Linked DNA regions of Homo sapiens: region 2 is linked to region 1. Evidence: fine-mapped expression QTL. A gene starts in region 1. The other region holds a variant in brackets. All regions are shown on one strand. Distances are from middle to middle.

The links. PIP is the estimated chance that this variant, and not a neighbour inherited with it, causes the effect.
Region 2: its variant is the best candidate, but not a certain one, in a credible set for the expression of ARPC5 in T cells (TOPMed, PIP 0.68).

Annotation. Positions count from the first base shown.
Region 1 is chr1:183,632,685-183,638,056 of GRCh38, reverse strand. It overlaps ARPC5 (actin related protein 2/3 complex subunit 5), which reads left to right and starts at 2,274. Exons shown (of 4, transcript NM_005717.4): 1 at 2,274-2,540; 2 at 4,903-4,975. The coding sequence starts at 2,398. It also overlaps a transcript of RGL1 not described here. RefSeq lists silencers at 1,991-2,150, 2,631-2,680, 2,761-2,820, 2,772-2,990 and enhancers at 2,301-2,580, 2,578-3,078.
Region 2 is chr1:183,612,743-183,618,114 of GRCh38, reverse strand. No RefSeq gene overlaps it. Among named protein-coding and RNA genes, the nearest start is that of ARPC5, 20 kb to the left of the region's middle. The variant G/A (reference allele first, on the strand shown) is at 2,796.

The sequences.
Region 1 (5,372 bases):
TCCATTTGCTGTCAATAGTGCCTCTAATGTTCGATTTTCTCTTCAAAGAAAAATCTTGATTTAAAAGAAGAAAAAGTACAATCACCTTTAACAGCTAAAGTATACTGATTAGCATCTACTAAAGTTAGCAAAGACTGAAACTGAAAAAAAATTGTAAAATCTTTATTCTAAGTTATATAACGCCATTCACCATAGTAATGATTTTATACTTTGGTATATGGCTTTTTAAAATAAATATTGCCAACAGGTAAAAATTTTTCCTTTGCTGTCTTAAGGCATTCCTAAGAGAATTTTTACCAGTGTGTGTTCATAACTTGAATGTTAATTTAAACAATGTTACTTCTATCACCTAAATGATATACTTATAGAAGAGTGGTTTAATTGGGAACAGAAAAACACCACATTGCTTCTTCCCAAGAAAAAGGGATGTATTCCATTCTCGAGGTCTCTCTCCCACTCTCTATTTATATATAATATACTGCATAGATAAATATACACACATTATATATGTATTTTTTTGAACTTAAAGAAGACTGGACATATGTATTTACATGTATATATCCAACAAATATTTAATTTTGAGATCTCTCTCCCTCTTCTGATTTATTATTCTCAGTATGATTCTCAAACTGTACGGTCTTTCACATTTCATTCATTCATCAAGCATGTATCGAGTCCCTTCTGCATGCTTAGCTTTTTGTCATATGGAAGGAAGATACAAAAGAAAAACTGTTTCTGCCCTTCAGAATCTTTCCATCTCTTCTAGGAAGGAGATAAAACACCATATATCATTAAGAAATTTATAAGACTAGTCCCAAAACCAATGGTACAAGCAACATGCATTTTACATTTATGTAGAATTTTAGAGCTTGGAAACACTTTCGTGATATATAATCCTAAGAACAATCTTGTAAAGTGCACATTATTAGCTCCATTTCAGTGATGAGGAATCTGAGACAGAATTTTAAGTGACATGTCTCGTTCAAACATTATGAGTGGAAGAGTCAACACTTAAGCCTGAGTTTTCTGATTCTAAGCCTAGTGCTCTTTTCAACACAGCACTGGAAACCAAAGATTGTGGTACACAACAGGGCAACAGCCAGTCTTCTGCTCGAGGTCCAACTAAACTGGACCCATACCGAGCAGTGTCCAGCCAAATGTCCAAATTAATTTTATCCTGCAAATATTTGTTCTTCAGTGTAATACACACAGCACAACTACCATTTCCTTCGTCTTAGTGCCTTTATCTCCTACATTCCAGAAATGGGGATGTCAAATATTTTTTTAAATCTGGCCTAGATGGAATCATATAAATCTCAAATCATAATATAAATCTTAAAGGTCTGGTTTCCACCAATCCTTCCACATTTTGTTTTCCCCCAGCACTAGAGAGCCTAACCTACCCTCACCCCTTTCGAGCATTCTTGCTCCAAACGACCACCTATTTTAAGATGTCAATGACCCTTTCCCAAATTCTACAAATTCACCCCAGTTTTGCCACCCGACCCCAGCGCCTGCCCGGACACGTTCCCCTCCCTCCCAATAGATTTGATACCGAGTTCAGGTTCTGCAGATCCCGTTGCGATGCTGTCACACAGCACTGACAGATAAGATTTGACCTTTCGACTCCGTCCTTGGGGACTTCCCGCTGGCCAAGAAGGGTAGTTCCAATCCCAGGAAACGGGCTTCCTGCTCAGGAACGCAGCCTCTAGCAGCGCACAGTCTGAGGCAATGTCTCCGGCAATTAGAACGATGCTGGGCGCCCGGGTGTGCATCACTCTGCCTCATACTCCTACCAACTGCAGGGCACTCGGTCCGGCAGCCAGTCCATCCCACCCACAGCCAAGTCCCAGCCAGCCGGACCTTACGCAGGACCCCGATGATAGGTCGTTGACGGCTGCAGCAAAAGCCAAGGCCACCTGCCGCTGCTGCCCATCCCCGCCAATCTGAGACCCCCTAGACTGGACCGCAGAAAAGCGTTTCTATGGGAACCCCCCCACCGAGAATCACGTGACGCAATCGGACGACCAATCGCTTCTTACCTCTGCCCGCGGTCCAGCTTTTGGCCCTCCCTCTCGCCCCCGCCTCCTTCGCCCAGCCCCGCCCCTTGCCTGCGGAGAGCCCGCGCCTGCGCGCTGTGTCCTGCGCGCTCCTTCCCTCGCGCGCGCTCTCCGTGGAAGAGCAGGGGCAGCGTGGGAGGCGCCAAGGGAGCGCGAACCTGAGGAGGAAGAAACGGGGCTAGCGCGCAGGCCCAGAACGGTCCGAGCCGCGGCAGTCGGCGACGCCTCAGAGCGGAAGAGGGAAGTGAATCAGGCGCCGGGTAGTGGGTTGCTGGGCTGGGCTTGCTGAGGTAGAGGCAGCGCCAAGAAGAGGCCTTTGCCGCTGGTCGGGATTGGGATGTCGAAGAACACAGTGTCGTCGGCCCGCTTCCGGAAGGTGGACGTGGATGAATATGACGAGAACAAGTTCGTGGACGAAGAAGATGGGGGCGACGGCCAGGCCGGGCCCGACGAGGGCGAGGTGGACTCCTGCCTGCGGCAATATCCTTGCATTCACCGCCCTCCCCACCCCAGCCCAGCCCAGCCCGCCCTTCTCCTGGGACCCGGGAGCCTGCAGGATCCGCGGGGCACCGGCGCGGAGCTGCCCTCTCAACCTGCGGCTTAACCTGTCTCTTTGGGATCGCCCGCTCTGAGAGGGCAAGGGGGAAGCCCCCGTTTCCTACCCAGTCGGCAGGAGACGCGAGGGTCCCACTCTTGGAAGCCTGCCCTCCCCCGCGCGCCTTCCACGCCCCCAGATTCCTCAGGTTGCACCCGAGTGCCTGCCTGCCTCGGGAACTGGTCCCGCCGGCCGCGCCCTCGCGGCGCTGGGGAAGGCGGCCCCGGCTGGTGGGGAAGGCTGGTGCCGAGCGCCTTAGTTTTTCTTCCTAGAACTCTGATTTCCTGGGGTCACATTAGCTCCAGAAATTTCTGATTGTGGGGAACCTGCATCTTTCCTTAGTGGTTTTGTTTTTTGTTGTGTTTTTGTTATTGGTAGCGTTAAGGTAGTTTATTCCTTACCGGGGGGCGGGGGGAGATGGGACTGTTCGAAAATTGAGGGTCCCTGTGCTTTCAGCCCATTGGCCTTTTTAAAAAAAAAAAAAAAAGAAGAAGAAGAAGGGGATTTGGCAAAATATACATTGTACAGAATTTGTTAACTGGGGGAGGGGAATGAATACAAAAAATACAAAACTCCTAGAAGGAAGCTTGGAGCCTTTTACCTGCTAAGAAAAGGACAATAGAAAAAACAACGGGGAATGCGTGTGGAGAATCCTTGGAAATATTTAAAATAAACCCCAATGAATAAGATAGAAGATGAGTCATTCGTATAAAGCAGAATCATTTTTGTAATCCTAAAATTGTTTCCATTTTAGTTAAAATATGGCAGTCAGTTCCCGGTTTCTGTTTTTGCATATTTGAATATTCATAACTTTGGCTTCGCATTTGCATTACATCTTTTTTAGAAAAATGTAAATGTTGCAAAAAAACCGAAGCTGTAGTTTTAGAAAATCTCAGACACTGAATTTGTATGCATTTCTAATTCTTGGGTGTATTCATAAGGAAGACTCTCAACAATGTCCTGTTATAGTGGGGAAATATGAGAGTGAAAATATTTAATGGCAACAATATCCTTTTTTAAAGGCACCTAAATAGAGCATTAGACATTTATCAATATATAGATAGTGCTTTGCCACAACTTTCACAATTAATTAGCTGTTGCTCTTTTGCATTATTTAAATACTTAAGTGCTTGGAGTTATAAAAAATGAGCTAATCTACATCAGGCATGCTTCTCTAGAAATCCCTGCAGCCTTGAAAATAACAGCTTGTCAACCAGAGATTTTGTGTAAGAACTTTTTCTTTAGAAAATAAATGGTGAACATGCTTCCTAAAAACATTATTTGTGATGGATAGATGGTGTTTTATGAAACCCCAGTGTATTTTAGGTAATTTGTGGTGACTTTTAAATGGTACTGCTGTATCCATATCAGTGGATCTGCTTTTTGATCAGTTCATCTTAAAATATAAAGATACTGTCTCTTCTTACCGTTACATACAGCCAGGAAAGACAGCCCTAGTGGTGGGGTACTAGAGTTGGAGGAACAAGTGAACTCTGTGGTTTTCCTTTTAGGGGAATGTTTGTACATTCTGACAGTCTGATTGGCCTTCTGTTTCTCATGCTTGCTAACTCACTAGTGCTTTCAAAGAGAGCCTGAATTTAATAGGTATGGTCTAACACAGTTTGAATAACCTTTGTGAAATATGAGAGAAAATATCTAAAGCAAAAAATTAAGCTGCCACCTAAGGGACATATGAATTATTACATCTTCTGTGATGCCTCTTTTCATCAATATTGAGAGATTGCTAATGTGTATCATTCAGATTGCTAATCTGCCAGCATGTTCTACCAGCATTTCAGATAATACAGAATATGGTTCTAGCAAAAGTTTGGTCTTTATTTTTTCAATTAGAATCACAGGAAAAGACATATTTTGGTTGATAATAGGTTATTTCATTTGGGGGACTAATAATTCTGATATATATTTTAGGATTTCTTTAACACCACTCTAGGTAATGTTTGCATATGTATCTCACTGGGAAATGAAAGACTATCAAGGTGTTCACTTGATAGTTAGAACCAAGGGTGAAACAGTCTTTGCTTTATTAAAAAAAAGTCTAATGTTCTATTTTGCTTTTGATATTTTGCCTTTGATTAACATCCTGGAAACCAACACATTGAATTTCCAGTATTGAACATAGTGACCAAAGTAATTTTCTTTTTATATGTAAATCAAGTCATAAGAACCAGTGGTTATAATGCTTTCCTGGGGGCCATCCTTTGCTGTTACACCCTTAACTTCCATCACAGGAAACATGACAGCTGCCCTACAGGCAGCTCTGAAGAACCCCCCTATCAACACCAAGAGTCAGGCAGTGAAGGTGAGTCGCAGACTACAACACAGTGATCTCTGCTGATATCTTATTCTTAGTAAAATCCTCTGCAGTTGCAAAAAAAAATCAATATTTTAACTGTTTGCTATCTTTGACATAGAAGAGTTTATAATGTAGTTTGATAGGTAAAAATTTCACGTGAAAAAATAGCCCTATAATGTAGTTATGATAATGCTGCATGGTAAGATACAGTAAGTTCAAACGATAGTGAAATCATTTGTGTGTGTTTTTAGAGGAGACCACTCAGGCTGAATTTGAGCAAAGGTTTGAAAAATAAGTTAAACCTTTACAAAAATAAACAGATTGTAATTGCTTTTTAAAGATTTTTTAAAACCATACAAATACTAAATACTTATTATAGAAAGCTCAGACATATGAGAAGGTT
Region 2 (5,372 bases), 20 kb after region 1:
AGGTTTCACTGAATACTAAGAGCCTGAAAAACTGCTTGGCTGATTTGACTAATAAAGGCTGGTCTGTTATCAGGCTGTATAGAGGTGGGAAGGCTAAACTGAGGAATTATGTCTGACAGAAGGGAAGAAATGACTGCGGTGGCCTTCTCAGACCCTGTAGGAAAGGCCTTTACTTATTCAGTGAAAGTGTCTATTTAGACTAAGAGGTATTTTAGTCTCTTGACTCGGGCATGTTGAGTAAAGCTAATTTGCCAGTCCTGGGTGGGGGCAAATCCTCGAGCTTGATGTGTAGGGAAGGGAGGGGGCCTGAATAATCCCTGAGGAGTAGTAGAATAGCAGATGGAACACTGAGAAGTTATTTCCTTGAGGATAGATTTCCACGATGGAAAGGAAATGAGAGGTTCTAAGAGGCGGGCTAGTGGCTTGTACTATAGCATAACCTGCCTTTGCTGGTGTGCGGCGATTAGGCCTGGTGGAACTGCCATTAATAAATCAAGCATGATCAGGGTGAGGAACAGGAAAGAAGGAAATTTGGGGAAATGGGGTGAATATCAGGTGGATCAGAGAGATACAGTCATGGGGGTCAGGTGTGGTATCAGGAATAATGTGAGAGGCCAGATTGAAGTCCAGGCCAGGAAGAATGGTAATTGTGGGACTTAAAGAGTGAGTACAGCTGAAGGAGCCGGTGAGCAGAAAGTATATGCGTCAGGTATGAGGAAGAAAATAGATTTTGGAAGTTATGAGAACTGTAGAGAGTTAGTTGAGCATAGTTTGTGATTTTGAGAGCCTCTAAAAGTATTAAAGCAGTGGCAGCCGCTGCACGCAGACATGAGGGCTAGGCTAAAACAGTAAGGTCAAGTTGTTTGGACAGAAAGGCTACAGGGTGTGGTCCTGGCTCTTGTGTAAGAATTCTGACCGCGCTAACCATGCCTAGGAGGGAAAGGAGTTGTTTTGTAGAAGGTGCTGGGGTTTGAGAGATCAGTCGGATACGATTGGCAGGGAGAGCACGTGTGTTATTATGAGAATTATGCCGAGATAAGTAACAGATGAGGAAGAAATTTGGGCTTGATTAAAGTAATGGGGGCTGTCTGTGAAGCTTTGCGGCAGTACAGCCTGGGTCATTTGCTGAGCTTGATGGGTGTCAGGGTCAGTCCAAGTGAAAGCAAAGAGAGGCTGGGATTAAGGGTGCAAAGGAATAGTAAAGAAAGCATGTTTGAGATCCAGAACAGAATAATGGGTTGTAGAGGCAGGTATTGAGGATAGGAGAGTATATGGGTTTGGCACCACGGGGTGGATAGGCAAAACAATTTGGTTGATAAGGCGCAGATCCTGAACTAACTTGTAAGGCTTGTCTGGTTTTAGGACAGGTAAAATGGGGGAATTGTAAGGAGAGTTTATAGGCTTTAAAAGGCCATGCTGTAGCAGGCGAGTGATAACAGGCTTTAATCTTTTTAAAGCGTGCTGCGGGATGGGATATTGGTGTCGAGTGGGGTAAGGGTGATTAGGTTTTAATGAGATGGTAAGGGGTGCATGATCAGTCGCCAAGGAGGGAGTAGAGGTATCTTATACTTGTGGGTTAAGGTGGGGGGATACAAGAGGAGGACGCAAAGGAGGCTTTGGATTGGGAAGAAGGGCGGCAATGAGATATAGCTGTAGTCCAGGAATAGTCAGGGAAGCAGATAATTTAGTTAAGGTGTCTCAGCCTAATAAGGGAACTGGGCAGGTGGGGATAACTAAAAAGGAGTGCTTAAAAGAGTATTGTCTAAGTTGGCACCAGAGTTGGGGAGTTTTAAGAGGTTTAGAAGCCTGGCTGTCAATACCCACAACAGTTATGGAGGCAAGGGAAACAGGCCCTTGAAAAGAATGTAATGTGGAGCGGGTAGCCTCTGTATTGATTAAGAAGGGGACGGGCTTACCTTCCATTGTGAGAGTTACCTGAAGCTCGGCATCCGTGATGGTCTAGGGGGCTTCTGAGGCGATCGGGCAGTATCAGTCTTCAGCCGCTAAGCCGAGAAGATCTGGGAAGGAGTCAGTCAGAGAGCCTTGGGCCAGAGTTCCAGGGGCTCTGGGAGTGGCTGCCAGGTGAGTTGAACAGTCCGATTTTCAGTGGGGTCCTACACAGATGGGACGTGGCTTAGGAGGAATCCCGGGCTGAGGGCATTCCTTGGCCCAGTGGCCAGATTTCCGGCACGTGTAGCAAGCTCCTGGGGGAGGAGGTTCTGGAGGAAGGCCTGGCTGCTGCGGTTCAGGCGTTTGGAAGTTCTTGTGTGCTGGAGATGTGGCTGGGGTTTGTCTCACAGTGGAGGCAAGGAATTGCAACTTTTTTCTGTTATTGTACACCTTGAAGGTGAGGTTAATTAAGTCCTGTTTTGGGGTTTGAGGGCCAGATTCCAATTTTTGGAGTTTTATTTAATGTCGGGAGCAGATTGGGTAATAAAATGTATATTGAGAATAAGACGGCCTTTAGACCTTTTAGGGTCTAGGGCTGTAAAGCATCTCAGGGTTGCTGCCAAAGGAGCCATGAACTGGGCTGGATTTTTATATTTGATGAAAAAGAGCCTAAACACTTCTGATTTGGGATAAAGAAAAAGGAGCATTAACCTTGACTATGCCTTTGGCTCCAGCCACCTTTTTAAGAGTAAATTGCTGGGCAGGTGGGGGAGGGCTAGTCACGGAACGAAACTGTAAGCCAGACCAGGTGTGAGGAGGGGAGGTGACAAAAAGATTATAGGGTGGAGGAGCAGAGGCTGAGGAAGAATTGGGACCTAGCTCGGCCTGGAGAGGAGCAGCCTGGG[G/A]AGGAAGGGAGAGGTCAGATGGGTCTGTAGAAAAGGAAGATTAGAAAGACTCAGCGATGCTTGGGGTTGGTACTGAGGGGACAGGCGGGAGGGAAAGAAGGAAGATTTGGGACGAGTTGCACTGGGCACAGAGACTAGGAAGGGACTGATGTGTAAAAGAATGCCTGGACGTCAGGCACCTCAGACCATTTGCCTATTTTACAACAAGAATTATTTAGATCTTGCAAGATGGAAAAATTCAAAGTGCCATTTTCTGGTTATTTGGAACTACTGTCGAGTTTGTATTGGGGTCAAGCGGCATAGCAGAAGAAAATAAGGCATTTAGGTTTTAGGTCAGGTGTGAGTTGAAGAGGTTTTAAGTTTTGAGAACACAGGCTAAGGGAGAGAAGAAGGAGGAATGGAGGGTGGAAGGTTGCCCATAGTGAAGGAGACAAACCCAGAGGAAAGAGAGCGTAGAAACATGGAGGGAAGGGGTTCGGGGGTTCTTGCCCTCCCGAAAAGTGGGAAGGGGGTCGGGTCACGGAAATAAGGGATTGGGGCACAGAGATAAGAGGTTGGGGTGTGGAAATAAGGGATTGGGGGTTCTTGCCCCCTAGAAAAGTGGGACTTGTTGCTAAGGGTGAAGGAGAAGGGGTTGAGGGGAACTTGCCCCTCTCCCAGAAAAGCAGAGAAGGGGTAGAGACAAGGAGAGAAGGGGTTGGGGTACTTGCCCCTTCCCCAGAAAAGCAGAGAAGGGGTAGAGACAAGGACAGAAGGGGTTGGGGAACTTGCCCCTTCCCCAGAAAAGCAGAGAAGGGGTAGAGACAAGGACAGAAGAGGTTGGGGTACTTGCCCCTCCCCCAGAAAAGCAGAGAAGGGGTAGAGACAAGGACAGAAGGGGTTGGGGTACTTGCCCCTTCCCCAGAAAAGCAGAGAAGGGGTAGAGACAATGAGAGAAGGGGTTGGGGTACTTGCCCCTTCCCCAGAAAAGCAGAGAAGGGGTAGAGACAAGGACAGAAGGGGTTGGGGAACTTGCCCCTTCCCCAGAAAAGCAGAGAAGGGATAGAGACAAGGACAGAAGGGGTTGGGGTACTTGCCCCTTCCCCAGAAAAGCAGAGAAGGGGTAGAGACAAGGACAGAAGGGGTTGGGGTACTTGCCCCTTCCCCAGAAAAGCAGAGAAGGGATAGAGACAAGGAAAGAAGGGGTTGGGGTACTTGCCCCTTCCTCAGAAAAGCGGGACTTGCCGCTAAGGGTGAAGGACCAAGGCAGGTGTCCCTGCGTGGTCTGACACCTTTGAAACATGGGTGAATGATCAGAGAGGTGTGCCTGCAATGATTAAACACCAAGGGAAGGCTGCCTTCCCAGTCCGTGACTGGCGCCGGAGTTTTGGGTCTACGGATAAAACATGTCTCCTTTGTCTCTACTGGAAAATGAAAGGAATTGAAATTAAGAGAAGGGAGAGATTGAAGTGTGGCGCCAAGATTGAAAGGAGAAAGAGGTTGAGGGATAGTGAGGGAGGTTGGAGAAGAGAGTAAAAAGAGGCCGCTTACCGGATTTGAAATTGGTGAGATGTTTCTTGGGCTGGTCGGTCTGAGGACCTGAGGTCGTAGGTGGATCTTTCTCATGGAGCAAAGAGCAGGAGGACGGGGGATTGATCTCCCAAGGGAGGTCCCCCGATCCGAGTCACGGCACCAAATTTCACACGTGTCTGTGTGAAGAGACCACCAAACAGGCTTTGTGTGAGCAATAAAGCTGTTTATTTCACCTGGGTGCAGGTGGGCTGAGTCCAAAAAGAGAGTCAGTGAAGGGAAATAAGGGTGGGGCCGTTTTATAGGATTTGGGAAGGTAATGGAAAATTACAGTCAAAGGGGGTTGTTCTCTGGTGGGCAGGGGCAGGGGTCACAAGGTGCTCAGTTGGGGAGCTTCTGAGCCAGGAGAAGGAAATTCACAGGGTTAATCACTCAGTTAAGGTGGGGCAGGAACAAATCACAATGGTGGAATGTCATCAGTTAAGGCGGGGCAGGGCCTTTTCACTTATTTTGTGATTCTTCAGTTACTTCAGGCCATCTGGGCGTATATGTGCAAGTCACAGGGGATGCGATGGCTTGGCTTGGGCTCAGAGGCCTGACACCAGGGAAGGCTTCTGATTGATCCAGCTTGAGTCTAGACTCAACCTCTAGATCAGTCAACTGAGACCTAGTCTGGATCACATTTTACTAATATAGTGACTTTCACTGTAACTCTGTAGATGGAGTGTAAGGACCAAAAGGTCTCAGAAATGAGATTCTTATTACACAAAATAATAAATGTGTGTTTCATACATAGGTTGTGCTAGGTTAGGGTCCATGGATTATTTATCTTTGGTCACTTTATGAAACCTTGTGCATAATTGGGGTCCCTTATATTTATTGAAGTATTAGGCAGCTTTTGGTGAATAAATGAATATAGGTATTATTGCCCCATTTTAATGAGGTTAACTTAGAGAAGTATATTGCCTAGAAAAAATACATGTTATGGTGATCAACTAGAATTTAGGTGTCTGATTATTAACAAGACTTTTTTCACTTCAAGAAGGACTGCAAATAGAGTCTTATAAG